Linked DNA regions of Homo sapiens: region 1 is linked to region 2. Evidence: fine-mapped expression QTL. A gene starts in region 2. The other region holds a variant in brackets. All regions are shown on one strand. Distances are between the middles of the regions.

Region 1 (2,912 bases), 390 kb before region 2:
ATGAAAAATGGGCAGATACTATAATAATTTCCACCCAAACAATTCTCCTATTTTAAAATTTATGCATTGTATTGTTTGAAAGACATAGCCTTAAGTTCAGGGTCAAGATACAGCTCATGTAGTTAAAGGTATCCAGCTGCTATCTCTGTCCATATTTGACTCTCAGTAGAATAATGTCATTCCTCAAAGGTCTGCTATTGTTTTTCTCGTTTGAGGTCCATTATTATATAGTTACGGTAAAATAAAAGTCCCTCTTTCATTGGCTCTGTTATCAAAGGGTATATTGAATGGAAATTAAGATTTAGAAGAAATATTCAACATCACTGACCTTGGTGTAGTAACAGTACTCTATTCTCAGTTTTGAGTAATGTTTTCTTTCTTGTATGGAATCCATTGAATGTAGTGATAAGGGAGTGATCCCTGAGTTCTCTCTATGGCCATGGAGGCTTTTGTCCTAGATTCTTGAGGACTGACATCTTTGAGCCTGCACCTTTTTCCTTATTCCCTCTCTCTATTTTTTTTTTTGCCTCTATCCGCAACAAATTTTACTTCCTTTTCCATCTGGAATCTGGTAACAGTGATAGTCATTCTCCACTTTTTGCAGTTCCACTCTTGGACGGAGGAGAGGGTTCTTATCCTGGGTGTGGAGGAGCAGAGGCAGAGGTGACCTTCACAATGGTGCTGACACAGGGTGACTCTCTAAGAAGCCAGCAGGCATTTCTCAGTGCAGAGATTAACTTCTTAGGAGTATATTGCTTGTTGTTATTATTATTAGGCTGAATTGATAAGCTAGAAGAATTTGTTTCCTTCTCATGTTTGAGTTATGATTTAGAGCACCTTTTTCTATTACTTGTTCTTCATCATAGTTGGGGAGTGAAAGGAAGAGCGTATCCTGTCTCACCTACGTGAAGTTCTTGCAGCTCTGTTTGTACCTACCTACATGGAAGCCTCCACTTCCATAGGCATAACTGGCAGACAGAAAGAGGCTAATTGATTAATGAGTCACTTTTGGGCAAAATATGTTTGTCAATATAGTTCATAGGACTAGCAGCTCAAACAAAGAAGCTAGCAGGCCCAGTGATGAGATATTAGAGAACAATGACACAGAAATGGTTTTAACCATAATGCAGATACAGAGATTAAACTAGAGTGAAAGCTGCAACACTTTAGGAGTTTATTTCATGAGAATAATTCTTCTAGTGTTTAAACCAGTTTGGTGTCCTCTAAAGCTCCTTTCCCACTCATTGGCTGGGCCAAAGATTTGAACAAAGACCCCCATCCTCTACCTCATCTATGCCCACTGTTGTCTTAGGGGAACTCCCAGCCTCTACCTCTGGCTCTGTCTTTCCCGTTCTTCAGATTCTATTCTTACGCTGCACTCATTTCCTTGGACTTGATGGTACAGACTTGCCCTCATTCCCACCCTACTTGATCCATGGATTCAGGCACCAGTTTCCCCTTTACCTGATCCCTGAAACCTAAGGCCCGTCCTGCTCTCCACAGTCTCCCGCTCCACTGCCACACCAAAAGCAAACTCCAGGAACCAGTCCAAGCCAAGACTTTCCCTCTAAGCTCCAACTCGCAAACTCTGTTTGTCTGAGAAGCCAGCCTTGGCAGCCAACATACTTACAAA[C/G]TCATAAAAACAAGTAGGAAATCTAAGAAAAGCAATATAAACTTTACTGGAATTTGAAAACGTCTTCTGAGCCATTAAAACTACAGTGCCTTACCACATACTTTTGATTTAGTAGAATGTTTTTTGCTGTTTATCCATTCATTTATCTATGTCTCCATTCCTCTGAGCTTTGGAATACTCGATCCAAGTAGCTTTTAGTTGGAGATCTGTAATTTTCACATTAAACGAGGAATTCTTCAGCAAAAATTGATAATAGGTCCTATTCTCAAGTAGGGCACTAGATGGAGCATGTGAATTTAAAGGAAATTAAGATCTATAGTTACTAATGACACAAATCACTTAACTCAATAAAATTAAAAAAATAAACCAAGTTTATTTTTATTAATTTCAACTAAAAATAGAGAAATATAAAACAACGTAACGCTTTTTATAAGCTTATGCAAAGTCTAGGAAAATGTTTTTAAAGGAGATAAAAATTGAAATAAATAATGCTTTTTCTCTACGATAGACCCTCCAAACCCCATAGCCAGAGGAGGAAAGTTAAGCGGGCAGCAGTTTCCAAAGAACACTAGTTGTGGAAGGCAGAAATAGTGCTACACATATATATATTTTTTCTGGTTGAGAAAACGAAGTGGTCTTTATCAGAGTAGAGAAGTCTTGCATCTACATCCACTTCTAGATTGCCTACTTCACTTTTAGGAGCAAATATTTCTAAAGAATTTGATCACCTGTAAGCATGGAAAGAGGCCACACATTGCTACTAATAGCAGTTAAAATTTTTAAAAAGTTATTTTTTGTTAATACAATATTATTGGGGAAGATTTTTTACAAGAATCAAGCTCAGATTTGCAGACAACATCTGCATGATTCTTGGAAGTTATATCTGTGAGACAGATTGGCATAGCACACAATCTCCTTCAGGCTCAGAAGATACCAATGTTGATCCTAGTGATATTGCATTGTGTATATTCACACTGAAAATTAAAACTTTCTACTAGACTGCATCTATTTGTGAGATTGCAAGTAAGGTTTGGTCCATGCTTCCATTTTTAGTTGGCTATAAAAATGTCATCCAATGTGAAGCTTGGCATTTCTGTATGCAGCTCAGGCTGCCATTAAATCCAGGTCAGGAGTTACTGAAGGAAAAAAAAGCCTGGAAAACTCACCATTGGTTCAGTGGTATTTTGAGTTCTGACTTCCTTCCCCAGTCTGCCTGTTACAATTTACTTCTCAGAGTCTTAAGATAGCTGCTCCATGCATTCTGACAAGGGTATTTAGT
Region 2 (2,912 bases):
CACTCCTCGATGTGGAGAACATACTTTTATTCTCCAAGGTCATGAATCTTTTTTTTTTTTTAATACAGGGTCTCACTTTGTCGCCCAGGCTAGAATGCAGTGGCACAATCAAGGCTCACTACAGCTTCGACCCCCCCTTACCCCACCGCACCCGTGCCACTATGCCCAGTTAATTTTTTATATTTTTTTGTGGAGACAGCGTTTCGCCATGTTGCCCAAGCTGGTCTGAAACACCTGAGCTCAAGCGATCCGCACACCTCGGCCTCCCAAAGTGCTGGGATTGCCAGGTGCGGTGGCTCACGCCTGTAATCCCAGCACTTTGGGAGTCCGAGGCGGGCGGATCACGAGGTCAGGAGATCGAAACCATCCTGGCTAACACGGTGAAACCTCGTCTCTACTAAAAATACAAAAAAATTAGCCAGGCATGGTGGCGGGCGCCTGTAGTTCCAGCTACTCGGGAGGCTGAGGCAGGACAATGGCGTGAACCCGGGAGGCGGAACTTGCAGTGAGCCGTGATCGCGCCACTGCACTCCAGCCTGGGGGACAGAGGGAGACTCCGTCTCAAAAAAAAAAGTGCTGGGATTACAAGTGTGAGCCACCGTGCCCAGCCCATTAATCCATTTTTGCTCCCTTCAGGAGCAGTAAGTAAACTAAACACTGCATCCTACAAATGAACTTGAGCTTTTCTGTCAGGGGGAAGAATAGGTAGAGAAAGAAAGTTTAATCAAATTTGAGGTTTTCTTACACTTCCTTGTAGTGGATCAATGGGAATAACCAGTCAGCCATTATCCATTCATCAGTACTAAGCAAATTCAACAAAACTAATGTTTTCAAATGTGTTGATCAAGACATACCCTTGGCCTTGTTTAAATGAAAAGTCCTCAATCAAACAAGACATTTTCTATGTAAGGGTGTTCCTGTAATAGAGGAGGCAGTGGCCTGCTATGTCCTTATCAAACTAGGGATGTATTTGTCAATGACTCCATTGAGTTCTTTTCAAAAACTTCCATTCTGGCATTTTTCCTTTGCCTCCTACCTATCATCAAGGGCTCACAGGAGATTTAAAGAATGAATGTGAACAGATGACTAAGAGAATTAAAAAATGGCCACGTCTCTGTATTCTCTTGGTTCCGGAAATGGTCCAGCTGGTTCTATTTTTATTATAATAATAATAAAATTTGTTATTTATTAAGCATCTTCCACATGTCAGAGCTTTATACATTTTTATGTCATTTTAGCTTCACAACCATCTACCAAGGTACATATCCTCAGCGGGTAGCAACTCCAGAGATTAAATAGGGAGTACACCTGATATTATGTGTCTACCATGTGAAAGTCGAATCCAGATTTGAGTCCAACAAACACGCGTCCTTCAAAACACGTTGCCTAGCAACAAATTGATTCTAGTTACTTCCGGCATCCCAAGTGGAGAAAAATAACCAATTCCTTCCTAGAAGCCAAGCTTGAGGGACCTTTAGAATTCTGTAACAGAAAAGCTCCCCACCCCCTACTGTGACCCAAGCAGTTACTTAAACACTAATACCTCCCATTGGCCGGCGTGGCAGAGCAGCAGCTCTGGCGCTAGAGGGAACCTGGGCTGCTCTAGCTGGGGGAGAGCCGGGTCTCTGGTTCTAATCACTTGAATCTGACTTCTGGGAAAACTGGCGTCCAGGGACTCCCCCCGGAGACCCATAATCTTCTTGGGGCGACCTCAGGTTGGGGGACTAAGTCCTGCAGGGGACACTTGTTCATCCACTACCAGGGACACCCATCTCTCCCAACTCAAGACTTCTTTTTACTCCCCAAGTTTAAAACTCTGAGGCCACCCCGCCCCCTTCCCTCTCCCTCGCTTAGAATCAGGTATGGACACCGACATTCCAACCTTCTTTCCTTCTTCGGCGCTCCTGAAGGTAACCGGTGCGCGTGCGCACGTCAATCCGAGGGTGTGTGCGCCCAGTTTCCGGCGCCGCGGGACACCCACAACCGCGGGGCTGTCCCTCAGCTCGGCCGCCCGCCCCGCCCCGCCCCCCCGGACCCGCCTCCCAGCCCCGCCCCGGGCCCTCCTCGCCGCGCCCGCTCCGTCCCGCGCCCTCCACCGCCCTACGGCCTGGGCCCGCCTCCACCCTGCCTCTCCGTGGTTCCCCGGGCTGCCCCTGCCCCCGCCCCCGCCCCCGCCACCTCCCCCGCCGTCGCCCAATTCCCCCAGCCCCCACCCTCGGCTGCTGCCCGAGCTTCCTCCACGCGCCGTGCAGTCTCCACGGCGACGCTGCGTTCCCGACTCGGAGCCCCCAGCTCCGCGCGAGCAGCTAGCCGGGCTGGCTCTCGGTGTGTGCCCTTCGGATGGTCTGCTGAAGAGGGCCGCCAGCTGGTAAGACACTCCGAGGCAACGACCGGTCTCCCTCTCCCTAGCCCGGTGTGCAGTCTGACCCAGCCCCCACAGCAGACCACCCCCAGACCGGGCGCCCGAGTCTGCGGACCGCTCTACCGCACCTGGTTCTGGCTCTGGGCCCCGGGCCCCGTGGCTGCCAGGGGCCGCCGGGAAGGGAGGATGCGCGCCACTGGGGTGCGCCTGGCTTGCGGCACCCTCCTCCCGCAGTGGTCGGAAGAGGTGAGGAAGCGCCGTTCGTGTCTACACGGGTGTGGAGATAACTGGGCGATTCTGACAGGCTTGTCTACACTACCATTCTTTGACCGGCCGGTGCACACGCACCAACTCCTTCCCCGCAAATAACGAAGATGGCCCAGCCCATCCCAGGGCTTCCCGACCCCCTTCCCTCAGTCCTTGCCCTTGCCCGGAATTCTTTTACTTATTTTTGGAAAATTAGTTAAGACATCACTACTAGCTAGATATAACTTGCTAGCCATACAAATTTCGATGGAATTTGGACAAATCATTTATATTCCCGGGCCTT

Which allele goes with the higher level. Positions count from the first base shown, and alleles are read on the strand shown. Sizes are in standard deviations (SD) of each study's normalised expression.
For the expression in tibial artery of the gene that starts at base 1,559 in region 2, C is the low allele of the variant in region 1 and G is the other (moderate effect, 0.41 SD a copy in GTEx).

The links.
Region 1: its variant is fine-mapped to the expression of ERICH2 in tibial artery (GTEx, PIP above 0.99). The same link has a PIP of 0.9 or more in aorta and coronary artery.

What each region holds. Positions count from the first base shown.
Region 1 is chr2:170,376,092-170,379,003 of GRCh38, forward strand. The region is part of intron 9 of MYO3B (myosin IIIB); the gene reads left to right. Among named protein-coding and RNA genes, the nearest start is that of MYO3B-AS1, 27 kb to the left of the region's middle. The variant C/G (reference allele first, on the strand shown) is at 1,634.
Region 2 is chr2:170,768,820-170,771,731 of GRCh38, forward strand. ERICH2 (glutamate rich 2) reads left to right here and starts at 1,559. Exons shown (of 10, transcript NM_001290030.2): 1 at 1,559-2,368. The coding sequence starts at 1,863. ERICH2-DT (ERICH2 divergent transcript) reads right to left here and starts at 1,947. Exons shown (of 6, transcript NR_110185.1): 1 at 1,883-1,947. RefSeq lists silencers at 2,137-2,196, 2,517-2,656.